4 linked regions of the Homo sapiens genome follow. The protein of the gene in region 1 interacts with the protein of each later gene in a biochemical or structural test. Each region holds a gene or a part of one and is shown in the gene's direction. Other genes may lie near its edges. The genes, in order: TOP2B, PIAS4, RANBP2 and RARA.

The links.
Region 2: of the proteins of TOP2B (region 1) and PIAS4, one has a biochemical effect on the other in vitro, tested with the Homo sapiens proteins (one study listed by BioGRID).
Region 3: of the proteins of TOP2B (region 1) and RANBP2, one has a biochemical effect on the other in vitro, tested with the Homo sapiens proteins (one study listed by BioGRID).
Region 4: the proteins of TOP2B (region 1) and RARA form a complex in vitro, tested with the Homo sapiens proteins (one study listed by BioGRID).

What each region holds. Positions count from the first base shown.
Region 1 is NC_000003.12:25,598,908-25,606,157, reverse strand, and holds part of TOP2B (DNA topoisomerase 2-beta), read left to right. Parts: intron 1-35; coding exon 36-115; intron 116-1,287; coding exon 1,288-1,398; intron 1,399-4,932; coding exon 4,933-5,058; intron 5,059-6,628; coding exon 6,629-6,723; intron 6,724-7,250. UniProt on the Homo sapiens protein: Key decatenating enzyme that alters DNA topology by binding to two double-stranded DNA molecules, generating a double-stranded break in one of the strands, passing the intact strand through the broken strand, and religating the broken strand.
Region 2 is NC_000019.10:4,012,672-4,019,921, forward strand, and holds part of PIAS4 (E3 SUMO-protein ligase PIAS4), read left to right. Parts: intron 1-251; coding exon 252-678; intron 679-7,250.
Region 3 is NC_000002.12:108,716,231-108,723,984, forward strand, and holds the start of RANBP2 (E3 SUMO-protein ligase RanBP2), read left to right. Parts: upstream 1-3,251; 5' UTR 3,252-3,376; coding exon 3,377-3,448; intron 3,449-7,754. UniProt on the Homo sapiens protein: E3 SUMO-protein ligase which facilitates SUMO1 and SUMO2 conjugation by UBE2I. Involved in transport factor (Ran-GTP, karyopherin)-mediated protein import via the F-G repeat-containing domain which acts as a docking site for substrates.
Region 4 is NC_000017.11:40,313,418-40,320,667, forward strand, and holds part of RARA (retinoic acid receptor alpha), read left to right. Parts: intron 1-1,775; exon of another isoform or gene 1,776-5,334; intron 5,335-7,045; exon of another isoform or gene 7,046-7,250. UniProt on the Homo sapiens protein: Receptor for retinoic acid. Retinoic acid receptors bind as heterodimers to their target response elements in response to their ligands, all-trans or 9-cis retinoic acid, and regulate gene expression in various biological processes.

The sequences.
Region 1 (7,250 bases):
TGTATCCTCTGTGGTGTTTATTTTCTTTCTAATAGAAAATCTTTGCATGACAAAAAAAGTCAGGATTTTGGAAATCTCTTCTCATTTCCTTCATATTCTCAGAAGTCAGAAGATGGTATGTTCATTTAGTCTTTTCATTGGTTATTGTATTATTGCTTTTAGTGGTGGAGAGAAAACAGTAAATAAATCGTTAGGTCATGATTTAACTTCAGAATTTTTAATGAGTAGAAAACTTCCTTTTTATATTTTGCTCAAGATAATAAGGCTTCTTTACTTTTTCTGAGGTGATTCCTAACTAATTGGTCAAAATAGGCATTATGGAAGCATTTAGGTGGACAGGCAAATGCTTATCTGTGTTTATGGGTGTGAGTGTATGTGTAGTGTTTTAATGAGAGAAAAGAAATAATGAAATTTTGAAAGCTTGAAATTTGATTTTCATGGCAATGTGAATGTATATACGACAGTTTTCTAAATCTGTAAGGGCACCAGTGTGATTGCAGATTGGTTGTTACCTGAGAGATTAAAACCGTCATAAGAACAAATTTAATCAGTGTGTATACTTCTTGTTTCGTATTTTTTTTGTGTATGGAATTTTTAAGGTCACTTAATTGATTCACTATCATTTTTTAATACACACATCTATACATTTAGACATATTTGGTACATATTCTATATGTATACGTACTCATTTTTGACAGTGTGTCAAAAGAGTTGTGTAAACATATTTATTTACATCCAAGTAGCTATTTTAAAAGTTTGTGCTATGGTGTTAGGGAAGAACGCATTACACTAATTTGAGTGCAAGAGTAAACTGAAGGTAAGCCTGTCTGCCTTTTAAATTAGTCTTCAAAAATTTATTTAAAAATAGGAATACTTACTATTCTTTTAGATTTAAACATTATTACTGATATTCCTGAAATGGTTAATAGTATTATTTGTGTAGGTACTAAAATAATACAGTGGGACATTTTCATATCTCATTTTAAAATAAATTGGCAGCATGTATTTTTGAATTGGTCAGTTATGTTTTAAATATTTAGCATTTGGGACTTTTAATTTTTACTACTTTATGCACTTCTGTGTTATTTCACCACATAGTTAACATTTTTGGTGTATAACTGATACATTTTATTTTTAGCTGTTTGTATATTGTGGATTATTTGGTCACAAAATAGTAACATAAGATCAATTGTCTAGCTAAAGGGAAGTCATCAGTTAAAAGAGTCAAAGTTTACTGAGAGATCTTTATAACATCTCTTTACTAAAAGAAGGCTTTGCAATTTTTAGATTCAGCTAAATTTGACAGTAATGAAGAAGATTCTGCTTCTGTTTTTTCACCATCATTTGGTCTGAAACAGACAGATAAAGTTCCAAGTAAAACGGTAGCTGCTAAAAAGGGTATGTACTTATATTTGATTGAGTTAAGCATTGGATAGAGATAGTTAATGTAAAAGGAAATGTAATTTAATTTGAAACTATTTGCATTTTTTTATCATAAAACAATTAAGAAGTATAAGTGCTTATAAGGAGAACCTCTCGTTTTCTAGCCATCTGAGGGCGTTAATAAAATTTCTGTAAGACTTAATTTTAAAGCTGTTGTAATTATAAAATAATCCCGTGCATTACTATCTAAAGATAGCTTTCTACAAAAGCTCCCTTGTGGTTAGGTTGTAATGGAGATTAAAATTTTGTCTTGCTAGTAGCTTGCTTCTGTTATCTATGTTGATCATGACTCAACTCCTTATGTGGAGGGATTGGTCAGCTCAGTTGAGGTCCTCTTTTTCTATGTGAGTCATGCAGCTTCTCTCTTTTTCACAGCCTTAGATTGGCCACAAAACACTTTGAGTTGATTAATGAATCTCTTACTAGTACCAAGATATATGTACCGTGGTCTTTTTGAAAGAGGTCAGTATTTGTGCTTTGTGTTTGAAGGATGACACTTAAAAAAAACCCCACAAATCTAATTGAGATGTGTGCTATTTAAGACAGCAAGTAAATAATATGGATTGTTCCCTCAAGGATTTTAAAAATTCACAACAGACAACATCATTACAGACACATGTATTGAATGTAGCAGAACAACAATTTTGAAAAGTCCTGCTTATTCTGAATGCAGTAGAACCATATTGAGAAACTGGTTATTTACAAGAGTCTCTGTAGCCAACACACTGGGTGACCTACCCATGTCCCTTACCACTTAGTGCATATTGGGCAATATCTGCCTTTCGTTGCCTGAGGACTTCCTCTTTGCCACTGTGCTGGAATATTAACACCCCCCTGCTCCCAGCTGCCTTTAACTAGCAGATTGAGGAAAGTTGGTCTATAAATATCTCAGTGTCCTTGCCTCTCATGTGAGCCAACTGTGGGATGTGTGTTTCACACTGGGACTCAAAAATTTCTTATGGAATTAAGCTCCTAGAGTGATGATTGGCTTGGTAACTTACCTATTACTGGCTGCCTTCTCTTCATTGTCTCATTTTTGTCTCCCCCTCCTTTATCTCTCAAATAAATACTTATACTTGAATCCATACTCTAGGATTAGGCAGATTGGCCCAAATCTGGGGAACCCACATTGAGATGGACCCTATAATTTCTCTTTTTTAAAAAAACAATCAGGCTGGGCGCAGTGGCTCACACCTGTAATCCCAGAACTCTGGGAGGTCGAGGCAGGCAGATTGCTTGAGGTCAAGAGTTTAAGACCAGCCTGGCCAACATGGCAAAACCCCATCTCTACTAAAAATACAAAAATTAGCCTGGTGTGGTGGCGTATGCATGCCTGTAGTCCCAGCTACTCAGGAAGCTGAGGCACAAGAATCGCTTGAACTTGGGAGGCAGAGGTTGCAGTGAGCTGAGATGGCACCACTGCACTCCAGCCTGGACGGTAGAGTGAGACTCCATCTCAAATAACAACAACAGAACAATCAAAAAGCACCTTTAAAAAATAATCTTCATATGAGCATCTTATAAACACCCTGAAAACTTGGGAGCCGTATTACTTCCTGAAACATACCCCGTTTCCTTCATCAAACTGTTCACCCATATTTAACCTAATGAGTTTAGCATGACCAAAAAGCTAGATTATCATGGTACCTATCCTACTTGCTTCCTTCTTCAGTAGCTGAACTGGCCTTGTCTAAGTTGAATAGGTAGACTGCCTGTGTGGTGTGATTTCAGGGACCCCAGCAAGTCCTCAGCTTTCCTTTAGCCTCCCTTACGAAATATAATTCCAATAAAATATCATTTCAAGAAGAGGATGCATCATATCCCTCTGTGGGATTGTCTATGTTAACTCCAAATTGCGTATGTTACACAAGTTAAATTCTGTAGTTCCAATAGTTTACAGCAGAAAGGCAGCTATAGTACTCAGATATCTGACCTGTTTGCCTGGTAGAATTGAAAGTGCCATGTAACTCCAAGCCAAGGAAAAAAAGTGGTTCCTAGAACACCTGGCTAAGTTTATACTCCCTGCTAGGAGCTGCCCTGTGGTTCTTGTGGTAGATATAGTCATGAAGACTCAGGTGGGAAAAGCCACACAATCTGGGTGCCACTTTCCTAGGGCTCCTCCTGCTCTTGGCTAACGAGGGGCCTTATTTGTAGTGTCTCAAATTGCGACTGGAATACATTTTCCATAGAATCAGTGTAGGTTTTTTTTTTTTTTTAAACAAAGTCTACAGTTAATATATTTTCTTCCAAATTAGGTTTTCTTAATTACAAAAAGTGATTTATCAGTTTTTTTTTTTTCTTTTTCTTTTTTTTTTTTTGAGACAGAGTCTTGCTCTGTCACCAAGGCTAGAGTGGAGTAGCGTGATCTTGGCTCACGGCAACCTCCCTTGCCTGGGTTCAAGCGATTCCTCTGCCTCATCCTCCCAAGTAGCTGCGACTACAGGCACACGCCACCTCACTGGGCTAATTTTTTGTATTTTTAGTAGAGATGGGGTTTCACCATGTTGGGCAGGCTGGTCTCGAACTCCTGACCTCCAGTGATCCGCCTGCCTTGGCCTCCCAAAGTTCTGGGATTACAGGTGTAAGCCACTGCAACTGGCCTTATTTATCAGTTTTCACATAGAACTGCAGATAAAGCTGTAAAACAAGGTCTATTTTTCAAAATTCCAGAAAGCAAAGGCCTGGTATCAATTGTCTACTTATCTAGGATTTTATATTTCTTTCCACATAAAAATGCCAAGTCTGGATTTCAGCTTTTGAATGGAAGTGAGTTGGTTTCTATTCATTGTATTCGAGGATCCCATACATTTTTTTCTCTAAAACATTCTAAAAGTTAGGACTTAATCTGTGGTTATATCTGGGTTATAATTAATTTATCAAATATGCTACTCTTTTGTCATGACTATTCTGTATTTAAAAGTTACTGCTTAATTTATTTTAATGGCTCTTCCTTAAAATGTCTTAATTGTATTACCTAAGGGCAAATTATACATAATTAAATAAAAAGCATTTTGTCATCTATGAGAAATTGTTTGCCTTTACATTGCCGCCAAGCAGAGAGAAACCATTTCATTATTTAAGGCGACTCAATTTTTTTTTTTGAAGATAGAGTTTTGCTCTTGTTGCTCAACTGGAGTGCAGTGGCGCAATCTCAGCTCACTGCGACCTCCCGGGTTCAAGCGATTGTCCTGCCTCAGCCTCCCAAGTAGCTGGGATTACAGGCATCTGCCACCACACCTGGCTAATTTTTTTATTTTTAGTAGAGATGGGGTTTTACCGTATTGGCCAGGCTGGTCTTGAACTGCTGACCTCAGGTGATCCACCCCGCCTTGGCCTCCCAGAGTGCTGGCATTACAGGTGTGAGCCACCACGCCCAGCCAGGCAACTCAGTTTCTAATCAGCTATAAGAAATTCCATTTATATAGGACTCTCTTCAGTTTGGTTTGTTGGTAAGTATATTGACCTGTGAAATGGAAATTTGCTTACTAGGAAAACCGTCTTCAGATACAGTCCCTAAGCCCAAGAGAGCCCCAAAACAGAAGAAAGTAGTAGAGGCTGTAAACTCTGACTCGGATTCAGAATTTGGCATTCCAAAGAAGACTACAACACCAAAAGGTGAGGATTATCTTCTTATAACCCTTTAAACATATGCTGTGTGGAAAAGATTGAATTTTTTCTACCTCATTGAATTTAGAGAGGCTAGGTATCTATTTTGTTTTAAATTGCTTTACTCCTCAGTAAGCAGTGTGTCTAGGAATCAGTGCTGAATATAGTCCAAAGGAGGCATAGCAATTTAGTTCAGTCACTTTGTTTTACAAATTAAAAAATTGAGGCTCAAAGAGGTTAAATAAGAATCCCTAAGAATGGTCCAAATTCTCCCCTGCAGCCAACTCACTGAAAGTTGTTATTAAAAAGTCAGATCAGTACTCCACACTAACTGTGACACTTATAGTAATGGGCTAGATCCAGGACTCTTAGGCTAGAACTTTTTTTCTCACCTAAGAAATAACTGTATTCAGGGCCACACAAGGAACAGCACCAGTTCTCCATGGCATCCCCTCTTTAACTCCAGAATCTGGAAAGCCCTTGAAGATGTTTTGTAAAATATGTTTGTAAGACATGATATGAGGGTAGCTCATGCTGTGAGGGTAGCTGCTCTACCTTTTATTCAACTGAAGGATATCTTCCTCAGTGTGTTTCTTATATTTCTTTAAGGAGTGGTTGGGATAAGGAGCTGTAGACCTACAGGGAAATGGGGATAATAGGGTGGAAAAGAATCACAGTGACTGGGAAAGTAGTACTCAAGATATGCAGGATTGAAAGCCTTTATAAATTCAAAAATGCTATTTCCCTGATTCATTTGATCAAATATGACATCCCAAGATTATTTAAGTCTATCTTCGTACTTGTCCAGTCTAGCTGTCAAGGGATTTTAAAGATATAAAATTGCTATTTAGTTGTTTTATTTCATTGGCATCATTGTGGGATGGAGAACATCTGGCCCCTACTTAAATATTACCTTTTCTCCTTCCACCTCCAATGATGAGAATAAGAGGTTAGGTAGGTGAAAAAAAATGCTGCATGTGCTGAGTCTAGGTCTGAGAAGGAATATGTATTTGACATTTTATAGTTAATACTGGTGGTTCTCATATGGTGCCACTTAATGTGGGATATGCAATTGGTTGTTACTAGTCTTTGATAAGTAAAACGGAGTAAACATTTAGACCTTTATAATAATGTGTTACTAAAACAGCATGTGATTACATTTTTTAGTAATTTGTGTTCTATGGTATTTTTAAAAGTATTGGCCCATGACAAATTAGAAATGAAAAAAAATATTTAAATCCCATGTAATTTAAGAAGTACTCTTCCAAGATATTTCCTTTTCAGGCTCAAGGACCAAATAGCAAATACAAATGTTTTATGTATGAAGGGATTCATCATTAAAATTTGTCTTTGGGACTTTCCCACTAGTTTAAATGTATTTGTCAAAAAGTCTTTGGTCATGTCAACCCCAGAATTGAAATGCTACTGCCAAATTGTTTATAATCACTCATAGTAAGAGATCAGGACTGCAATGCTCCACTGATTGGGCATGCCAAAGAAATAAACTACAATGTTGTGGCATTTATCTTTTTATATTGCACTTAACCACGGAAGAAAAAACCTTTTGTATCATTTTAAGGTAAAGGCCGAGGGGCAAAGAAAAGGAAAGCATCTGGCTCTGAAAATGAAGGCGATTATAACCCTGGCAGGAAAACATCCAAAACAACAAGCAAGGTAACCGGGAACATCATTGCATATTAGTGCATGGCTTTTTAAAAAAAGATCTGTAAGTGACTTAGTTTGCTTATGACTATAGTCCTGGAACAGCTTTCCACCTAGCATCTCGTATCAATATGGGGCTTGTATTTGGTTAAGAAATTATTCAAGTATAAATTTATATAATCAGGACTATTTCCTAAATAACTGTGCTATAAATTAACCTACTTAGAACCTTCCATTTCATCCACTGAACTGTAGTAGTGTTATGCTACCTAAATATTAGACTCTTTCAGACTAAAATATTATTTTTCAGACTAAAGACTGTTTCCTTTTAACTTGGATTTATTTGACCAGGGCTAATTTGATTTTTTTTTTAATTGAATTCATTTGACTGTGGCTGATTTTTCCAATTAGTCTGACCCTTTTCCAGAAGTACACTATTTCTTTTAGGTAAATGAATGACATCAGCTCCCCCGCATCCCTTTTTATGTTGATTTCCACATTGACCTCTTCCATTCAGTCATCTTCTATGTCTCAGGTCC
Region 2 (7,250 bases), on another chromosome or scaffold:
GGGGGGCCTAGTCAGAGGCGCTTTTGCTGCGTTGGCGATGCTGGGGAAAGTTTGATGAGGAGGAGGGAGGGGGCAGGGCTTTGCTGGGAGGGGGCACCGTAGGGGCAGGGCACTCCACCAGCCCCAGCCAAGGCTGGCGCTTCCTGGCGAGTGGGTGTCTTTCACGGCCCCCACATCGGGGCCTGGCCTCCATGGAGTCCCCTGCCTCGCAGCTGTGTCCTCTGAGTGTGTGTGTGCTTGCTCCTCCTCAGAACATGGTGATGAGTTTTCGAGTCTCCGACCTTCAGATGCTCCTGGGTTTCGTGGGCCGGAGTAAGAGTGGACTGAAGCACGAGCTCGTCACCAGGGCCCTCCAGCTGGTGCAGTTTGACTGTAGCCCTGAGCTGTTCAAGAAGATCAAGGAGCTGTACGAGACCCGCTACGCCAAGAAGAACTCGGAGCCTGCCCCACAGCCGCACCGGCCCCTGGACCCCCTGACCATGCACTCCACCTACGACCGGGCCGGCGCTGTGCCCAGGACTCCGCTGGCAGGCCCCAATATTGACTACCCCGTGCTCTACGGAAAGTACTTAAACGGACTGGGACGGTTGCCCGCCAAGACCCTCAAGCCAGAAGTCCGCCTGGTGAAGCTGCCGTTCTTTAATATGCTGGATGAGCTGCTGAAGCCCACCGAATTAGGTGAGTGGTCACCCTGGGGAGGCTGCGACTGGAGGCTTCACCTAGGCCCCGTCGCCCAGCCCAGCCCAGCCACACAGCCGACTTCGAGTGATGTTCTCTGTGGCGCAGCCAGGGCGGGGAGCCACAGTGGCCAGGGGTGTCCTTCCTCGGAAGCAAAGGGACCATCTTTGATATTGGTCACCCCTTGCTGTGTTACAAGTTACCCCGAAATGGAGCCACTGGAAGCAGGGGGCGTCTGTTAGCTCTCAGGAACCTGTGAGCTGTGTTGCGGGGCATTGGGGCTTGGGGGCTCTCATGAGGCTCAGTCAGGCTGGAGCCACCTCATCTGGAGGCTCGACCAGGGCTGGAGCAGGCACATCCTTGTGTGGTGGCTGGCAGGCCTCAGCTCCTCGCCAGCTCTTGGCCACAGTCCCCAGGTCCTCATGGTGCGGACTCCTGCACGGATTGCCTGGGCGTCCTCAGCCTGGTGGCTCCCTCACCCTAGGGTAGCGAGTGTGCACCTCCAAGCTGGGAGCTGGAGCCCTTTTTATAACCCAACCTCGGACACGCCTCGCCATCTCCCCCACAGAGTCCGTTGCTCACACAGACTCTGTGGCGCATGCAGGGACCACACCAGGCTGTGACTGCCAGGGCCAGGGGTGACCAGGGCCACCTGGGAGCCTGGTTTCCCTGCTTATTCCCCTTGGAAAGGGGGCTGGCCAGTGGCATCCTTCCCCCGGGCTCTGGTTCCTCGCTGGCAGCCTGCAGGAGTGTCCTTGGTCAGTGGGCTCAGGTCACTGCCAGGCTGTGTGCACCGGGCGTGCTGGGGGTTCAGGGCGATCCCAGGCGGAGGAGAGGTGCTGGGCTCCACGCTTCTCTCTCTCGTGTCTTTGTCTGCAAGCACTGACTGAGCAGGAACTGTGTGTCAGGACCTCATAGCCCACAGCAGTGTGGACAGGCCCCTGGTGCCTCCCCAGCAGCCGTGGCCATTCAGGCTGCAGGTGGGCATTGAGCCCAGTCTCTGCCTCAGCCATAGCCCTGAGCTCAGGGCCAGGGAGGCCTCCGCAGCCCCAGCCCCCAGGGCAGAGAGAGTGTGCAGCCTCTGGGACTCCCAGATAGGGAGCGGAACGTCCTGGGCCTTTGCGGACCTGTGCCTTGAGGCGCTCAGATTTCACCAAGTCCTCTGTGTGCCTGGAGGTCTCTCCGTCTCTTCTTCCTGCCTCCCCTCCCCTGCCCCCACTCTTTCCTTCGCACAGTAAACATCGGAGCGCCTGCTGGGTGGGTGCGTGATGGGCACCAGGCGTGGGCACGCAGCAGGGAACAGGACCAAGGCCACGAGGTTCAGAACCCTGTGCATGCCCCCTCCCACCCTGCTGACCCAGCAACCTGCCTGGCCCCTGCTGTGGCCTGAGGGCCCTTCTCTGGCACGCTTCAGTCCATTGGGTGCCAGCTGGCCCCCGCTCCCCTGCCCAGGGAGGCAGCGTTGATGGGGGTAGGGGGAAGGGGAACTGGCTGCTTTTCCCCTCCCATCTGCAGCCCTGGGACTTAGTGAGGTTAGGCTGGAGGGGCTGTGCTTCCAGGTGAGGATGGAGGAAGTGGAGGAGGGAGGAAGGTGCTGTCGGTGGTTCCTGCGGCAGCCGAGGCTCCTCCCTCCAGCCTGAGGCTCCGCCTTCCAAGTGAGGCTCCGCCTCCACCTTTTTTCTCTTGCAGGAGGTGTCTAGCAGCAGCCTCCTGGGGAGCAGGTTGGCCCAGTGGCACCTGTCCTGGGGGACTCAGGGTCTTGGCCTGAGTTCCATCGGACTGACTTTCCCAGCCTTTGCTCTCTCATGAGGGAAGCTGTTCCCCCTGCCAGGTTCTTGGGCAGAGCTGGCTGTCTCTGAAGGTTGGGCCTTGGGAAGGACCTGCATCACAGGGAGGCTGGGCTTTCCTGGGAGCGGCAGGGCAGGCTTGGTCCAGGGCGGGGGACGGGGCTGACCAGCTTCCTTCCTGCACGGGGACCAGTAGCTCCGTCCCACAATACATCGCTGTGCCCTGAGCCACCAGGGACCCCGGTCACCTGATCTCCGGGAGAGCCTGCTCCCCTGTCTACACCAGTGTGCCTGTGCTGGCGGCTCAGAACAAAGAGGCCATCCCCACCCTGCCTCTCTCTCCCACTGGCTCTCTCTCCATCTCAGGCCGCCAGGTGAACCTCCTTTCCTGGATTCCGTGCTCTTGGGGGACTCCCTGGGGGCCACCTCGGTCCTCAGAAGTTTCCTGGAGCATAGCCCCTGGCCCCGAAGCAGTGGTCCCCATGGTTTTAGGACCTGAGATGCCATCTGTCCGCCCTGACCCTGGGCTGTGTCCCTCCCCAGGGTGCACTCTGTGGTGCTGGCCTTGCCCGGGGGCCGCCTCCGGAGGACCCAGTTCCACCGGCTTCTCCCTCACTCCCTCCTCTGGCTGTGACCCACCGTCCAGCGTGAGGCCCACCGCTCTGGTCTGTTTCCCCGGAATAGCCGCCGGCCGGCTCCAGGATGGAGACCGCGCCAGGCGGACAGGAGCCATAAATCACGCGGTGCGGAATGCTGGGCTGGGGGAGGGGGTGACAGAGCCACAGAGCAGGCTGCAGGGGCCTCAGGCTGTAGGTGATCGGCTCCAGTGGGAGGTGCCGTGTGTGGGGACGGGGCTGGCACCCAGAACAGTGCGGAGAACGGCCCAAGGTCGCACAGCGGCCTGCCTTCCCTCCTCCCGAGCCGACTGGCTCCTGCTCCTGAGCAGAGGCTCTGGCCTGGACCTCTGCAGGCTGGGAACCCTGTCCTGCCTGTCGGCAAGGAAGCCGGCGCCACCCCTTTCCAGCCTGCGCCACCTGGGGAGTCCGGCTAGGGAGCCTGACCCTCCTGTCAGGGTACTTGGGAAGAGAGGCTGTCAGGAAATGTGGGGCAGAAGGAAGGATACATGCTGGCCGGGCACAGAGCTGCTCCTCCAGGGTCTTGGCCCGCAGCGGGCACCCCGAGGAATCTGCCTGCCCACCCGCCTGCTGTGCAGAGTGGAGCCCCTGTCACCACGACTCCAGATGCCCCCAGAGGCAGATAGCCCTGGTACCAGCCAAGAGCCGCCGGTCTGGCATGTGCTGTGCTGTGTGTAGGCACCTGTGCCCTTCAGCCTCTGAAGCCCTTGGGCCAGCATTGCCCAGGCCACAGCAAGGTAGCGTGGTCCCTGCTCAGGTGCAGCACAGAAGTGCCAGGTGATAAGTCTCATGGCACACGGAGGGCTTTCAGGGGCAGCTGTCAGTAGCAGGAGCCATTTACTCTACATTTGTGAGGAGGTAGCAGTCAGGAAGGCCTCCTGGAGGCAGCAGCGTTTCAGTCCAGACCCGAGGGTGACTCTCAAGAAGCCAGGCAGAGAGGAGGGGGCAGGGGAGCGTATTCCAGGCAGAGGGCAGTGAGGGCAGAGGCCGATGGCCAGAGAGGGCTCATTCATGGGGCTGAATGGAGTTCATTGTGGCCAGAACATGGTGCGCCCAGGAGGAGGGACGCAGTAGCCTGGGCGCGGGCGGCAGAGGCTGGAACCCGAGAATGGTGGGCCCGGGGAAGGCTGGGGGCTACCCTGCTTGCCCCGAGGGCTTCAGCGCCCCTGAGGTTCTGGTATGATTTTTGGGGTCAGTGAGGAAACTGAAGTGCAGGAGGCAAGTGGCCGTCTGCCTTCCACAGCCAGGCCTGCTGCCCGCCCAGGCCCACCATCTGTCCGTCTGCACACTGGGGGCCTGGATGGGCACGGAGCGTCCTGTGTCACTGTCCCACATGTGGGGTAGTCTGACCCACTCAGCCCGCTGGCACTTCCCATACCTGTGGTTGGGGAACAGGGGGACTCCGCCAGCTCTGCCCCAGGTCTTGGCCTTCAGGTTGAAGAGGAGGGATGGGCCCACTGCTACCAGATGGGGGGCTGCCAGCAGCCACCCCCATGTCCCGCTAGTCCTTCTCCCATCCCCTGTGGCCCCCTGCCCTGCCCAGCCCAGCTCCCCAACCTGCCCGCTGGCTGCAGCCTCCTGCTCTGCTTCCTGCCCACTGGTCCCCCTCCCATGGCAGCCTGTGAATGTTTTCACTGATGGGTAGAGTGGTCGGCATCACCCCTGTGCCTAGCCAGGGGCACCTGTTCCCCGCCCCTCCAGGACAGTGCCCCCTGTGTCCCTCATACCTGACTGTGCTGCCTCTACTCTTGATCTGGGGGACCTGGGTTGGGGAATCAGTGCTGGTAGCTCTTAGCTGGACAGGGTGGGTCCGGGAGTTAGAGAACTTGTATGTGCCGGGGAGGGGACAGCCTGGGGAGGGGGCCAGCACATGGGCCAGCTGGAGGGGGAATGGTCCCATCCGATCAGCTTTTTTTTTTTTTTTTTTTGAGATGGAGTCTGACTGTCGCCCGTGCTGGAGTGCAGTGGCGCGATCTTGGCTTACTACAGCCTCCTGGCTTCAAGCGATTCTCCTGCCTCAGCCTCCCAAGTAACTGAGATTACAGGCACGCACCACCACACCCAGCTAATTTTATGTACTTTTAGTAGAGACGAGGTTTCACCATCTTGACCAGGCTAGTCTTGAACTCCTGACTTCAGGTGATCCACCTACCTTGGCCTCCCAAAGTGCTGGGGTTACAGGCGTGAGCCACTGCGCCCAGTCTCATTTTTTGTATTTTTAATGGAGACGGGGTTTCGTCATGTTGACCAGGCTTGTCTTGAATTCCTAACCTCAAGTGATCCACCTGCCTCGGCCTCCCAAAGTGCTGGGATTATAGGCGTGAGCCACCAGGCCCGGCCCCAGTCAGCCTTTTAAAAACTCCCTGTGTTTCATTTCTATTTAAACTTGTACAATTATGCGCTTGTCCTAGAAAACTGGAGTCAACAGCAGAGCAGTCCGGCCGGCGCCCTGCTGCCCGAGTGGGCCGCCTCGGTACACCGGGCCGGTGCTTGCCGCCTTCTCCCTTTGCATGTGTGATTGTAGGAATGTGTGGCTGTGTCCTGGCTGCTATTTTATAACCACCCCCCATACTGTGAGCATCTGCTCACAGCGTTAAATATTCATCGTCAGCAGCATCTCGTGAGGCTCCCTGGCAGCCTTGGGTGGAGCCAACGGCTGGGCCCTTCTTGTTGGGCTCTCGGATCGGGCCCAGGGGCTGCTTTTCGTGCCCGGGCCGGAGGGCCTGGCTGAGCACCTCACCCCAGAACCGGCTCTGCCTGGCAGGGCCCCCGTGGTCACCTGATCTTGCACCTGGCCCCAAAGGTGCATCTGGTTCAGTGGTGCCCTTGCCTTGGTCCCGTGGCCTTGGATGCTGGGCAGCCCACGAAACCATCTCCCCCTTGGGGAACTTCATGCTTCAGTGGCCCAACAAGAAGGAGCAGCAGAGTGATGTAGGGAAACTGAGTCGCTCCTTAGGAGGAGAAGGTTTGGAGAAAAGTGAGGTGGCGGGGGGTGCGGTTTTTAAATGGGGTGCTCAGCGAAGGCTTTCCTTCTGGTGACATTTGTACAAAGACAAATATAGGGCCATGAGGCTGGTCGGGGGAGGAAGGTTCCAGAAGAGGGAATGGCAGGTGCGGAGGCCCTGATGCAGCATGGCTGGTGGGGCCCAAGCAGGAGGCCAGGGTGGTGGCCGTGTGTGCGCCGGGGTGTGTGTGGCCCTGAGCAGGGGTACTGAGGGTCAGGGGTCTCCTGCGGAGCCATCCCAGGGGGCGGGCTCTGGCTGCTGAGACCGGCAGAGCTGGGGGCAGTCGTCTGCACCGGGCGGGATTTGAAAACAGAGCTGACAGGACTGGCTGAGGGAGTGGATGTTTGCAGGACAGCAGAGACGGGGGCTTCATGGATGCCACCTGGGTTTCTGGCCCCAAACAGCTGACCCCGAGGGCAGAAGGGCAGGTTTGAGGGAGACCCCACAGCCCCTTCCCCAGCATAGGGGGGCCGGGTGTTTGGGGGGAACCGTCAGCGGCCCGGGGCCAGTGGCACAGCAGTGAGAGCACAGGGCACCTCCCAGGCCCCCAGCAGAGAAGCACAGCCCGGTCTCCCCCAGAGGGAGGAGCCCTCCCAGGGCAGGGACCCCAGAGTCTTGTTCTTCAATGACTGGGCCCTGTCTGCCCCAGGCATGGGCTGGCAACAATCCCTGGCCAGCTGGGTGGCTCCCTTGCTGCCTGCTGGGGACCCACCCTTCTCCCCTACCTCCTTCTGAGACACTGAGGGGTGGGGTGTCTGTGTTTTCACCTCCGACCCAGCCTGGAAGCTCAAGGCCCAGCTCAGGTGTAGGCTCCCGTGCAGCCTCCCTGCCCCTGAACCATTGCTCCCCTGGCACTCAGGGCAGACCTGGGCGCGTCTGCAGGTGGCCTGTGTGCCCCCCTCCCAATTAGGCGGCCTTCCTCAAGGGCCCAGCCGGGACTCCACAGCCCATCACCTCTGCAGAGACTGGCTGTGCCCTGAGCATATAAACGGGAACCGGCTGTGGCAGCCCCCTCTTCCTGAGGGCCAGCCACAGACCCGGCACCGGTCCCCGAAGAAACAGGTCAACATGGGCGGGACGTGCAGGCTGAGGCCACAGAGGCCCTGGCAGGGCTGGGAGCCGAGCCCAGGGAGTCTGGCTTTTTT
Region 3 (7,754 bases), on another chromosome or scaffold:
GGTTCTCTCTTTGGGCACTCCTTTTCGATATATTCAACATAAATGGATTAATGATACCATTTTTACTAGGTGAGTATGTTTGGGCAAGTTGCTTCAGTGCTCATTCTCTTGGTTTCCTTTTTTTTTTTTTTTTTTTGGAGACAGGGTCTTTCTCTGTCACCTAAGCTGGAGTGCAGTGGAGTGAACATAGCTCACTGCAGCCTCCAACACCTAGCCTCAAGAGATCCTCCTGCTTCAGTCTCCCAAATAGCTGGGACTACTGGCAGGCACCACCATGCCTGGCTAGTTTTTAATTTCTTTTTTTTTGTAAGCACAGGGTGTTGCTATGTTGCCCAGGCAGGTCTTGAACTACTGGGCTCAAGTGATCCTCCCACCTCAGCCTCCCAAAGTTTTGGATTACAGGCATGAGCCATGGTGCCTGGCTGTCTTTTGCTTTCCTTATCTGTAAAAACTGAGGATAATAACAGTACCCTTACAAAGTTGGTGGAAGAATGATATTAATACAAATGAAGTGCTAACAGAAAGAGCTTTGGAACACAGCAAGTACTTGTTAGCTATGGCTATTGTTATCAACACACTTTTCAAGGCAAACTTGTGGTTTCACCTATCACCTGAGATATATGACTTTTAAGTCCATCAGATCTTCTCTTTTGGTTTTTATTTTTAAATTAATTAAATATTATTATTATTATTATTTTGAGACAGAGTCTGCTCTGTTGCCCAGGCTAGAGTGCACTGGCACGATCTCAGCTCACTGCAACCTCCACCTCCCAGGTTCAAGCAATTCAGGTGCCTCAGCCATCCAAAGAAGCTGGGATTACAGGCATGCACCACCATACCCAGTTAATTTTTGCATTTTTAGTAGAGATAGGGTTTCAACACGTTGGCCAGGCTGGCCTTGAACTCCTGGCCTCAAGCAATCAGCCCATCTGGGCCTCCCAGTGTGCTGGGATTACAGGCGTGAGCCATCGTGCCTGGCCCTCTTTTCGTTTTAGAGATAGGAATCTCATTCTCTTCCACAGGCTGGAGTGCAAAGGCATGAACATAACTCATTGCAGTCTCCAATCCTGGGCTAAAGGGATGTTTCCCCCTCTGCCTTTGGAGTAGCTGGGCCTCAGAACTGTGCCGCAACTACTGACTTCCATCAAGATCTCTGTCCTACCATTTCATCTTCCTACTAGGCTATCCCCACATGGATATATAAATGGTACCTCAAGTGAAAGAAATCAACTACCTAAAATAGGATTTTCCACTCCAAACTAGATTTTCTTTACATGTCATTTCTGTTAATGTGGGTCACACACACTGGTAAGCTCAGAATCATCTTTTTCTTTTCTTTTATTCACATCCAATATTGTTGAAATAAAACAAAATGCTGTTTTTCCTTTTTTAGAAAGGCAATACTTGTTCATTATATCAAAATTTAGAAAATATGGAAAAACAAAAAGGATAAAAAATTATCCACAACCAAAATAGCCCAAATTTCCAGTTAAAAATGTCAACGCATTTGATATTTGTCCACATAATTCAGACTGTAATGTTTACACAAATGTGAGCTTTTAAAATCTAAAAGGTTCTCACTATTAAAAATGTTTTGTTAAATTTTGTTTTAAAAGTAAGATTTTAATATCCAAATTCCCAAAATAGACATTTTTGAAGATTTGGAAAATACAGACGGCTCAAAATCTTTACATTATTACTGTTAAATTTTGGTATGTTCTGTTATTCTGCTAGTGAAATATATATAGATTTGGGGGGGCTATTCCTTTTCCTTTTTTTTTTTTTTTTTGAGACAAGGGTCTCACTCTGGTGCCCAGGATGGAATGCAGTGGCGCTATCACAGTTCATTGTAACCTGGAACTCCTGGACTCGAGGGATCCTCCCGCCTCGACCTCCCAAAGTGCTGGGGCTACCAGCTTAAGCCACTGTGCCAGGCGAATGGCTATTCCTATATACACAGTTGACCCTTGAATAACATGGGTTTGAACTGCCTGGGCCCGCTTATAAGCCGACAGAAAATACAGTATTGGAGGGGCCTGCATATAGAGAGGTCTGACTTTTCCTCTAAGTGTTCCACCCGCAGGACTGACTGCGGGATTTGAGAATGCGCGGACTTCTTCTTCTTCTTTTTTTTTTTAGGAAGTCTTACTCTCGCCCAGGCTTGAGTGCAGTGGCGCGATCTCAGCTCACTGTAACCCTCGCCTCTCAGTTTCAAGCGATTCTCGTGCCTCAGCCTCCCGAGTAGCTGGGATTATAGGGGCCCACCTCCACGCCCAGGTAATTTTTTGTATTTTTAGTAGAGATGGGCTTTCGCCATGTTGGCCAGGCTGGTTTCGAACTCCTGACCTCAGGTGATCCGCCCGCCTCGGCCTCCCAAAGTGCTGGGATTACAGGCGTGAACCACAGCGCCCGGCGGAATGCGTGGATTTTGGCATAAGACGGTGGTTCTGGAACCAATCCCCCGCCGAGATGACTGTTTAAAAAATTGTAATTGTCCAAAACTTAATATTTGTGGTCTTTTTCATTATGCAGTTCTAAATCTCCCTTTTTTTTTTTTTTTAAATTCAGACGGAGTCTCCCTCTGTCGCCCAGACGGCGCAATCTCGGCTCACTGCAACCTCCGCCTCCCGGGTTCAAGCGATTCTCCTGCCTTAGCCTCCGGAGTAGCTGGGACTACAGGCGTCCGACACCACGGCCGGCTAATTTTTTGTATTTTTGGTAGAGATGGGGTTTCCCTGTGCTAGCCAGGATGGTCTCGATTTCCTGACCTCATGATCCGCCCGCCGTGGCCTCTCAAAGTGCTGGGATTACAGGCGTGAGCCACCACGCCTGGCCCTCATTTAATAAGATATGAATTTAAAAATGTATGCTTTAGTATTCACACATGTCCGATGCAACGTATTTAACCAGTCATCTCCAGAAACTTTGTTCCAATTTACACGTTCACCAAATTGGCCTGAGTGCTTTTTTTCTTCCAATGCATTGCGCACTTATAATTTAGAACAAGTGACCAAAACGCTTAAGAGCCCATCACGCAAATTGTTATCTGCTGGAAATCTACGCCCTAGGCTGTGGACACTGGCGGCCGAAATCTGATCCCGGCTTGCCAAGACACCCTCAGAGCACGCGGCGCTGCCAAGAGCCTGGCCGAGTGCAGCTCGAGCGCCGACGTCGCCAACGTGGCGCACACTGCTGACGCAGTACGCAAGTTCGTCACAGTGGTCCTCCGCCGGCTGCGCCGCAAGTTCGTCACAGTGGTCCTCCGCCGGCTACGGCGCTGCGTCACTGGTTTGCAGGCGCTTTCCTCTTGGAAGTGGCGACTGCTGCGGGCCTGAGCGCTGGTCTCACGCGCCTCGGGAGCCAGGTTGGCGGCGCGATGAGGCGCAGCAAGGCTGACGTGGAGCGGTACATCGCCTCGGTGCAGGGCTCCACCCCGTCGCCTCGACAGGTGAGTGGGTCTCGAAGAGACCGACGGCCTCGACCTGGCCGGGCGGCGGCCTCGCGCTGCTCAGGCGTCATGGCTCCCGACGGGCGCTGCTCCCTGGCGCGCTCTGTTGAGGCGCCGGCCGGCTGGCGCAGTCCTGTGGGCGGCGTGGCGCTTGCAAGCGCATGAAGAGTCCTGGGGGGACAGCGGTGGGCGGGAGACCTTTGGCGCCGGCGCTTCCTCTTTCTCCCGGCTTGTTCCCGACGCTTGTTCCCGACGGTGCTCGCTCCTGGGGCCGCCCTGGCCCGGGCTTTCTGGCCGATCGCGCACCCCGTAGTACCCGCGCGGCCTAGTTCTCGGGGGCTTGGGCACCCGGGTGCTGTATCGGCGGGTTTCTTCCCATCTCCTGGACATATACTTTATATGCTGCGGCGGAGGTCGTACCTCCTTGGCCTGGAGGAACCCAGTGGGGACTGACGCAGCTCCGGGTGAGCTTTGGCGGCTGCGTCGAGTGACAAGGTAGGCATCTCAGCGCGGACATTTGCAATGGCCCGACGGCGCAAATGACACTGAAAGTCCCCTTGTTTTGAGTATGAGGTGTTTGTCGCTGTCCCTTTGTAAGGGTCCAGCTCCACTCCGCTCCTCATACTCACCTCCCTCGCCCCCCTCCCCGCCCGGAACACTTTGGTAGCTGCCTTTGCTTAAAAAAAAAAAATTCTAAAGTTCTTACAAATCGTTAGTATGGCTTGCAATTTTTAACCTTTTCCACAAATGTTTTAAGGGTATTTTTCCTCTTTACATGTAAATAATGTGATCTATTTTGGATTCAATAAGACTTTAGTAATTGGATCTAAAGAGTGACGGAAGAAGCTATTAAAGGTGGATGTGCGCAGAATCTTGAGTCAGTTTGCTTTGGCTTGAATAATCACAGCACTGTCGTTTATAAGCTGGGTATTTGGGGCCAGTTACACTTTTCATCCATAGATGGAGTTGTAACATTAATAGAATTTGATAGGATGATCCATTTTAAACATTTAGGGTATTGCTTGACACATAGCACTAAATGTTAGCTACAAGTCACTTTTTATTGTTGATGTTAAAAGGATATTGGCGGGGCGCAGTGGCTCACGCCTGTAATCCCACCACTTTGGGAGGCCGAGGAGGGCGGATTGCCTGAGGTCAGGAGTTCGTGACCAGCCTGGCTAACATGTTGATACCTCGTCTCTACTAAAAATACAAAAAAAGTTAGCCGGGCGTGGTGGCGCATGCCTGTAGTCCCAGCTACCCGGGAGGCTGAGGCAGGAGAGTCGCTTGAACCCGGGAGGCGGAGGTTCCAGTGAGCCGAGATCGCGCTACTGCACTCCAGCCTGGGCGACAGAGGGAGACTCCAAAAAAACAAAAACAAAAACAAAAAAAACCCGGAAACTCACGGATGACCATGATTATAATAGTAGCATAATTGTGTCTCTTATCGTAACTAAGCATAGGTTATCTTATTTTGCGCTTCCAGCAGCCCTGTGGATATTGAGACCTGTAGAGATTTAAGATACTTGTTCAGGGTCAAATAGATAGTGCAGCAGAATTTTGGCAGTGGGTCTGATTTAGTTTCTCTTGGGAACAGTGGAGTAAGTTACAGTCTATTCCTCCAGAGGAGGAGGATAGATATCTACTTGTACATTGTAATTTCAAACTGCTAGCATAGTATAAATATGAATGTGATGATAGAGTCTAAAACAGACCTTAATTGAGGGTTCCTGTAACTCCTGAAATTAAAGACTTTAATTTTTGTGTTATTTTATTTTTTTTGAGGTGGGGTCTCACTCTGTCACCCAGCTGGATGCAGTGGCGCTATCTCGACTCACTGCACCTTCCGCCTCCCCAGCTCAAGCGATGCTCCCACCTCAGTCTCCCGAGTAGTTGGGACCACAGGTGTACCCACCACACCCGCTGTTTTGTTTTGTTTTGTATTTTTGGTAGAGACTGGGTTTCACCATGTTGCCCAGGCTGTTCTTGAACTCCTGGGCTCAAGTGATTTCCCCGCCTCCACTTCCCAAAGTGTTGGGATTATAGGCGTGAGCCACTGCACCGGCCATTATTTTATTTTTGAGACAAGGTCTCTTTCTGTCTCCCAGGCTGGAGTGCTGTGGCGGGATCGTGGCTCACTGCAGCGTTGACGTCCTGGGCTCAATCCATCCTCCCACCTTAGCCTCCTGGGTAGCTGAGACTACAGGCATGTGCCACCATGCCCGGCTTTTTTCTTTAATGTAGAGACGGGGTCTTATCATGTTACCCAGGCTGGTCTCCAACTCCTGGGCTCAAGTGATCCTCCCGCCTTGGCCCCAAGTGCTGAGATTACAGGTGTGAGCCACTCTGCTCAGCCTGATTTTTTTTTTTTTAAACAAGCTTAAAAAAAAAAAAAAGCAAGCTTAGAGCCTTTCTGAGATTCTTAGTGGGGACCTTGGCTTCCAAAAGATTAAAAACCACTGGTCTAGACAGAAGTTAGAATGTTCTTTCAACTACATAACTTCTCCATTAAATAAAGTGGAGTGGTGGCAGAATTTTGAGGATTGGTTATTATGACACCTCTCTTACACTTAGAGTCTTTTTTTTCCCCCAAATTTAAAGTCATTTACATTAGAACCTGGGGATTTCAGCGGAATATGGATTAACTAGTGAGTAACTTTGGAACATGTGAAGCTATTCTGTAAAGTTAGGTTTGAGTGAAATGACAAAACAGGGTGCTTTGGATAGAAGGTAAAGAATGGAGGGAGAAGAGGCAGTGGCTGTGAAGAATATGAAGAGGTTAGTATTCTCCCCCAGTTTGGCAGAGGCTGGCCATCTGTGAACTGCCCATGCTTTCTAGAATGTCGGAGTTTTGGAGTGTGATGATGCGTCTGTATATCATATCTTTCTAGTCTTTCATTGTGCTTTCATTTGTTAGTCTTCTCTTGTTTTGCCATTTTTCTACTCCCTCACATGTGCTTTTGCCCTTAAAAATATTCTTCGTCTGTAATCTGAGCACTTTGGGAGGCCGAGAGACCAGCCTGACCAATATGGTGAAAATCCGTCTCTATTAAAAATACAAAAATGAGCCGGGCGTGGTGGCAGCGCCTGTAGTCCCACCTACTCGGTAGGCTGAGACAGGAGAATTGCTTGAACCCTGGAGGCAGAGGTTGTGGTGAGCAGAGATTGCACCACTGCACTCCAGCCTGTGTGACAGAGCGAGACTCTGTCTCCAAAAAAGAAAAAAAGAAAAAAAAATATAATTCTTTCTCTAGTTTTTCTTTTTCCAGATGGCTTCTGTTTAGTTTTTCTATGTTCTGTCAAGTTGATTTCTTATTCTGCAGCTGATTCCTACTTCTCAAAGTCTACTTGACAGCTCTTATTTTTATTTATTTGTTTTTTAGAATAGGGTCTTGCTGTGTTGCCCAGGCTGCCATCAAATTTTTGGGCGTAAATGATCCACCTACCTCTGTTTCCTGAGTACTTAGGACTACAGGCAGGCACCTTTGACAGCTGTTAGTTGTTTTTTCTGCCCTTTACAGCTATACTTCATACTTCTGAGTAACACACATATATACTTTTGTTATTTTTAATTTCCTTTCTCCCATTTTAGACATTTTCTTTTCTTTTTTTTTTTTTTGAGACGGAGACTCGCTCTATCGTCCAGGCTGGAGTGCAGTGGCGCGATCTCGGCTCACTGCAAACTCTGCCTCCCGGGTTCACACCATTCTCCTGCCCCAGCCTGTAGCTGGGACTACAGGCACCCGCCACCACACCCGGCTAATTTTTTAGTATTTTTAGTAGAGACGGGGTTTCACCGTGTTAGCCAGGATAGTCTCGATCTCCTGACCTCATGATCCGCCCGCCTCAGCCTCCCAAAGTGCCGGGGTTACAGGCGTGAGCCACCGCGCCGGGCCCCATTTTAGACATTCTGTACTGGTTATTATGCTCCTCCAAAACTGTCCTCAGACACTTTGGTTTGCCCCTCATTCTTTCAGTACTGTTATTGCAGTTTTTGTTTAAATGAATATTTAACATTTATATAAATATAAGGTAAATATTTTTGCATTTGAATTGCCCTTGTTGTGCGGTTTTGTTTTTCCTGGACTGAATAATTGCTTTATTTTTTGGTTTGCTTGTATGTTGTGTTACTACTTGCTTACTTAAACTCAGCAATTTACACCCTCAAATGTGGTCAAACTGGTCACATAATCCCATCAATTGCAGCTTAAAACATTGATTGATTGATTGATTGATTGATTGTCTGTCTACCTGGAATACCCTTACTAACTGACTTCTCCAACCAGGATTGGTTTTTCTTCCTCTT
Region 4 (7,250 bases), on another chromosome or scaffold:
GAGAATTGTGGTCCCTCAGAATTCAGTCTGCTTTCTGTCTTCTGCCTCAGGCTCTCCCCACAGGCCACCATGCTGCACAGCTGCAGGGGGAACCATTCCATAGACTATGATGTGAATGGCACCCCCTGGGGTTGTTCAAGGCCCTGCCTGTGTAGCCACACGTGGTGCATCTGTCTCCCACCTTCTTCCTTCAAATTAGTTCAGACCCACCTGGAAGGAGGTGTTCCAGACAGGCCTTAATCCAACACCCTCTCCCCTACCCTGCCTCATGCCACTCAACATCTCCTATTCCTCTGCTGCCCACCCCCAACGCACCAAGCAAGTCATGGTGCACCACCAATTGTGGTTCAGAAGCCCCTCCCCTTCTCTCTACGCAGTTTCTGTGTCTCTTGGGGGCTGATTTATCATACCCCCCATCAAGCCTACTGCAGTGTGTGAGAAATCAATAGTGCAAATGGATTGAGGCTGTTTAGCCTGTCAACTCTCCTTGGGCCCCACCAACTCTTCTGGGACTTGCGGAGTTGCTCAGTCCCCTTCTGGCTCAACATACACATATTTAGTGGTTGTAGCCAGAGCACTGAGCACAGGAATTATTCTTTCTGTTGGTCTCTGTCTCATTCTCTCTCATATACTAGGCTGGTCTTAACATGACAAATACTCTTGAACATTTATTTTCTAGCTTGGGTGGACGGGCTTAAAGGGCAGTAGGCTGCCAGCCAGAGGTAGGGAGGGAGGCAGGTGGGTGAGGGATATGGCGGGTGGAGGGGTGGGGTGGGGGTGGGGACGAGCTGGGGAAGGGATTGGGTGACAGCCCACCCCATCAGCTCTGGTAACTCAATCCCTGCACCCCACCCTCCCAATTTCCCTCCTGCTCAACAACTTCAGCAGCTGCTGGCAGAAGCAAGGCTGGCAGAAGTGTGTTTGAGTGCATGTGTATATGAGGGGAGAGGGTGAGAGGGGCTGTGGGGGCAGGGAGTGCTGCCAGGACATGTTAAAGGAGACTCACAGCCTGGGTACAACTTGGGTGGCAGGAGGAGGTGGGGCAGGTGGGAGAGTGGGTGGTGAGTGATGGGCAGGCTGCAGTGGGGGCAGGGCAGCACAGGGGTCTCACAAAACTTGTTGGCACTGGAGCGGGGCCTGGTGTGGTGGGGGTGGGCAGTGGTGAGGGGGCAGGGGCTGGCACAGACATTGCTGGCCCCAGAATGCTGAGGCCCATTCTTTGCCAGGGGGCGCATGTAACCATGGAGGGACAGTCTGCCCCTGTCTGCAATCCTTGGGCTGTGCCTGCTGGGCATCACAGTCTTGGTGGTGACTAAGTCACTTCTGTCCTGGGGCTGGCAAGGTGCCAGGCTCAGCTCTTCTCGGTAGGTGAGTCACTGCCCTGGCATCTCCCCCGGATGCAGCTGAGTCACCCAGCCATGCCTGCTAGGCAGGTGGGCACCAGGCTTGTGGTGGGGGTGGAGGGCTATGTGTGCAGCCCCCAGTGTCTTCTCTGATCTCTCTCTGGCATGTCCTGGCCCCACCCATAAACCTGCAGAGCCAGGCAAGGATGGCGCTTCTCCCTTGTGATCCACTAAGGGGTGAAGGAAAAGGTAGCAGGGCACAGAGTGGAGTCATACATGTTTGATTTGGAGTAAGTAGGGGAGGAAAGAGTTGAGGAGGGAACATTGATTGGGTTATATGTATATATATATATATATATATGCTTATATGTGTATATATATATATATATATATATATATATATATATATATACACACACACACACACACACACACGTATATATTTATTTATTTTAACAAAAAAGACACAGGGTCTTGCTATGTTGCCCAGACAGGTCTTGAACTCCTGGAGTCAAGCAACTCCTGGCGTCCCATCTTGGCCTCCCAAAGTGCTAGAATTAAAGGTGTGAGCCACCATACCTGGCCTGGGTTTGAATCCCAGCCCTGCCATTGACAAGCTGTATGACGTTGAGGAAGGCAATTTTCTTTTTGAGCCTCAGTTTTTTCATCTCTACAATGGCAACAGGAGCCTGCCCCTTCAGGACTGTGAGAATCAAATGGAGTGGGACTATTAAGGTACTTGTGGGAGGAGCTCCTTTTGGGATGAGCTAGGAGGCTTGGGAGGGGAAGAGGAGTCAGCTGGAGCTGGTTCCAACAAACTCCCGCACCATGGTCTTGGAGGGCCAATTGCTTCTCATCATCTCTTCGGAGTATCACTTAATGCTGTTCTTCAGGAGTTTCCACAGGCTGTGAGAAGACAGCCTTGTTGTACTAGAAGTGTGGGCCCTCCTAGGGTGTCTCAGAGCTATATTTTATCTCTTTTGACTACTGAGAACTGCCACTGGCCCTGGTACCTGTCCAGACTCTCTTCCTTCACTTCCTCTAGTTTGAAGAGGGATGGGGCTCAGACTCCTCCCCCAGCCTATCTCCTGTGTGCAGGGAAACAGTAGGCCCCAAGGAGTGTCCTTCTTAGAGTGAGGCGCCCCGAGCCTGTGGCTTTTCTCTCTCTGCTAGTTTCCTGCTGCTCCCTGGGTACCCTTCTCTCCTCCTGCATCAGAGTCCCTGGTGGGAGGGGGTGGTGGAAGCCCTGTTATGAGCCCAGCATAGCTGGAGTTCAACTGCTGCTGCAGATTGAAGACTCCTGGTCCCCCACCTGGGGACCTCTCCTGCCTTCTGCAGTCAAGCTTGGGTAGGGCTGGGCCTTGGACAGGTGGTACTGGTTTCCCTGGACAGGAAGGAAATGCCCCAAAGATGTGCATGCTTTGTGTTTGTACACACGGGTGCTGGTCTTGTTTGAGTGTCTGACCCCTGCGGGGGGTGGGTTTGTGTGTATGAATTTCTTCCCTCATCCACACATGGGGCTACTTCTGTGTCTGTGCAGAAGTGTGCCCCACCCTCTGCTTCATGCCCTTGTCTGTGCACAAATGTGTTTGGATGTACTTGTTCATGCGTGGATGTGCATACATGCGTCGGGGATGTACACATCCCTGCCCTGAATGTGCACGTGGAAATGCATTTGTACCAGGATGCCTGACCCTATGATGGCAGGTGTACCTGAAGGTCGTCCCACTTGGGAGGCAGTGTAGCTGTGTGCATGCATGCTTGCATTCTTGTGTCCATGAGCCTTCCCCTCCAGCCTCAAGGAAGGAAGACAGGTAGGATCTAGGTTGGGAGGTGTCCGTGGGCACTAGGGGCGGGCTGGCGCTGACTCCAGTCCTGGGCTGGTTCTCACCTGGGCAGAGCTCCCTGCTGTTGGCGGGGCTCAGGCTGGAAGGCCCTTGGGGGAGCGCGGCTGGGGGGTAAGGGGTTAAGCGGTGGCGTCCACATCTGGGAGCCATTGGCGCATTCCTGCCGGCTGAGCGCATGTTTGCGGATGAATCTGGACAGGACAGGGCGGGAGGGGCTGGGCGGGAGGTTCGCACCGGCGGACGGAAATCCAGACGGGAGCGGGAGACAGCTCCGGCCCAGCAGGCGGGAAGGGGCCTGGGGAAGCGCGGCCCAGCACTGCTGGGGCAGTTTCCCGTGCGCCGGCCCTCAGGGCAAAGGGTCCCGCCATCCTGGCTTGTCCTACCTTACCATGGCTCTTGGGCTAAAGCCAGGGACAATCAGATACTTCAATTCTAGACCCGGCTCTGCAACCGGTGCGACTGTGCACAAAACCCAGTGCCTGCTCTTGGACTCTCTTTCCTTGTTTGTAAAGCGGGGTCCGTCGGACCAGTGGGTTTGAGAGCTCTGCCACCGGGTCAGGCTGAGAGTCTCCTCACTGGGCTGGAGGCCTGGGAGTGCAGCACTTCCCCTTCCAGTGGGAAGTTCTGTGGGGGCACTTGTGGCCACTTCTCTGCCTGGGAACAGGGCGAGAGGGGAGTATTCTAAGCAATTCTGCTTCCCCCTAAGCCCGCCAGTGGACTGCTAGCGATGGGGACAGGATCCTCCCAAACAGAGCTGCAGGCTGGGAGGGGGGTCATGACTGTATTGGGGACTGGGGGTCTCTCAGATGGAGGGTGATTCAGATCCTGTCCAGCTGGAACATGAAAAAGAGCTTTCCTGGCTTCTCCAGACTTGTTCGGGAGAGAGAAGCTTGAGTGTGAGTCTTTGAGCACGGAGGGGTGCTCCTGGGCGCCCCTACTGGAAGATCCAAAAGTCTTGCCCTTTGAGGAGAAGAGTACTTTAAGGGGGCTGGGAGGGTTGGGTTGAGCCAGGGTTCCTAGGACCCACTGGAGCTGCAGAGGTGTTTGGGGAAAGAAGAGATATACTTGCGGGAGATCTACTCCTGGACTCTTTTTTTTTTTTTCTTTTTCTTGCAGCTGAGATAATTAAGATCCAGGGAAGGGAAGTGACTTGGTCAAGGTCACACAGCTCTCAGTTCCAGCTGGTCCCTAGAAGAGGATTATAATTATAGGATTCAGGGGCTTGACAGCTAGGGCAGGAGTCACCGCACTCACTTCCATATTACGCCGCCGCCTCACTTCTCAGATTTAGGTGTGGGTGTGTGTGTGGTTGGGGGGAAAGGAGTGTAGGATACCACACGCTGCGGTCTTCTCCACCGAGCGCTATTTTCATTCTTTCCGCAGAACCTCACCCCGTTCTTGCTCTGAATCTTCGGTTCTGGGTCTGAGGGAGGGATTCTCCCGGATTCCCACGGTCCAGTCTTCAACTAGGAGTGGCTCCTTTAAGACTCGCCCTTCCCGAGGTCTATTAAGGAGAGGCGGGGGCGGGCGTGAGCCTGTAGATCCGCCCCTGACTGGTGATTGGTCGGTGGGCGGGCAGGGGCGGGCCTGAGGGACAGGGCCTCCCCCTACCTCTGCTCCGTACCCTCCGCCCCTTCAGTCTGGGGCTCCGGGTAAAGTTTCAGCCTCCGCACGTGACTCGCTATGGCCGCTGCCATCGCCCCGCGCCCCTGAGCCGCGGCCCCCTGGACGGCTCCTCTCCCGGGACCCCGCACCCTGATGCCGAGCAGCACCAGGGCGCCGGGTTAGGGCAGACGCTGTGCTCGCTGGCACCCCGAACGGGTTGCTTCCCCCGCTGCGAGGTAATTCCTCCCCTGGGGATTTTGGGGAGCCCCTGGTTCCCGCAGGCGTCGGGGCCCCATGTCCTGCCCCAGATTGGTGCTGCGGGAGGGGACTGGGTACCGGGAGGCTTCCGACGGGAACCCGGGGTTTCCTGGGCTTCCCAACTCGCTGCCGCCGTGTCCAGGGTGGGGGAGCCCCGTCTGTGAGTCTGCCTGCGCCGTGTCTTCGCGCGCAGCCTTGAGGCGTCTGGGGCCGTCTGCTGCGCGTGTCCCCCGCGCTCGAGCTGTTGCAGAACCGCCGCTGGGAACTTCTGTTCTTTTTCTCTTTAATGATAAGCAAAACAAAAAGACTTGAATTCAAACCTGTTTGGGGAGAGATCGGATGCTCAACGGACTAGCCCCCTCTCTTTTTCCCTCCTGTTATCTGAGCTGCCCTGTGGTTTGGGGAGAATCAGCCAGGGGGCCCACTCCCACCAGAGGGAGCCGGCCGGGGGCCGGGCCGGTTCAGCTGGTGTCCCCCGTGGAGTGAGGGGAACCGTCAGAATTGGGTGCGGGAGCCAATGCAGTATGTGTGTAGGGGTGTTCCTGGGTCTTGTGCCACCATGGGGTGTGGGAACTTTTTGGGGTGAGGGGAAGACGGAATAGACTGACTTGTCGACTTTGCTCTGCTGAGGGTGTCTGGGACCTGGTGCCACCCACGAGGCTTGGAAGCTGCTGGCCAGATGTGTGTGTGAGCCTGTTGTGGGGTTGGGGGGACGGCTGGGAAATGAGCTTGGCTATGTCCCCTCATCTCCTCTCTGGGCACTGGCCTATTGTCAGGCTGCTCCTTGCGAAAGGAAAGACAGGCCTCCAGTGTGCTAGGGTGGGGATGGGGACCAACTAACCCGGAAACCAGACAGAAGAGCTCCCCAGCCTTGGAGATGTTTCTGCACCCTCCATCCTGTCTTGGATCAGATGCCCAGTGTGATGGCCTGGAAGGGTACCTCCTGCCCCCTCTGGCTCTGTCTTCTGTAACCAGGTTGCCTTCTGTCTGATGGCTGTGTGCACATATGTGTATGTAGATATTCTTGGAAAGGATTGTTTCTGAGAACACCCCCCGACCCCCCCACCCCCTGCTGCTTACCCCAAGGATCACTTCTGCCCCTGACACTCCCCCTCCTCAGTTTCCTGGCCAAGACATTCTGGGATGTCTCTTATACCCTTCTCTGGTTGCAGTCTTCATAGGGCAAGATTGTTTTGGGGGAAGTGGTTCTGTAAGGACCTTCCAGGTCTTGCTAGGAAATTGGACCTCAGGCCCCAAACTCTCCTACAGGGCTCCATGAAGAGGCTGTGCCGGGGAAGCCCCGGGTTGGAGTGGGGGTGGCTTGGAGCCTTGGGGCTTCCCCTGGAGGGGGCCGGGGGGGGCGGGTAGAGATGAGGCTGGGGGAAGGAACAAGAGAAAAAATATTTGGAGTTGGTTGTATGATGCTTCTTCCTGGAGGAATAAGAGGGGGTGGTTGTGGAGTCAGGGAGTTTGTGGCTGTGAAAAATGGTATGCTGGAGGGAGCTGGGACATCAGTACTGCCTGGGAGTCTGGACCATGTGGTGTCCTGAAAGAGAGGTCAGGAGGGTCAGACTGGAGTAGCCTCTTGGGAGCTGAGGATCTTGGATTTGCAAGGATTTTGAGGGTGTGATTGAGTGTATATGAGGTGTCACTGCAGGGGTTTCACCATCAGACTGGCGACGGTGGCACAGATGCAGTGGCAGTTCTGAGAAGATCCTGGGGTTGAAATGGCTTAATCCTGGCCACATCCTCCTTCCTATAGCCCCTAAATCTCTATCCCTTCAGTCTGACCCTAAATGCACCGGCTGCCACCCTGGGACACCTTTTTAGTCCCCTTCCTACTCCCAACCTTGAGGCAGCCTGGCAGGAAGCCAGCTGTGGGCAGCCCCATCCTGATCACCCATGTGCCTCCCCCGCTGGGCACAGTCACCCACACATGCCATGACGTGGTTCCTGCCACCCCATCTAAGTATGGGGGAGAGGACATTGTCTGAGTGGCCCCTCAGGTCTGTTTTGGGGACATTCACCCAGACCCCAGCTAATGCGCGCCCCTTCCCCTAAACCATTTAGTCTTGGAAGCTGACTCTGCCCTCTGGGACCTTTTCTTCCAGGCCACTCCTTGCTCAGACTCCAGTCTCAGGTGGGATGGTCCTCAGAACCGTGTGATGTGACGGTGGGGCCTGTCCCAAAATACAAA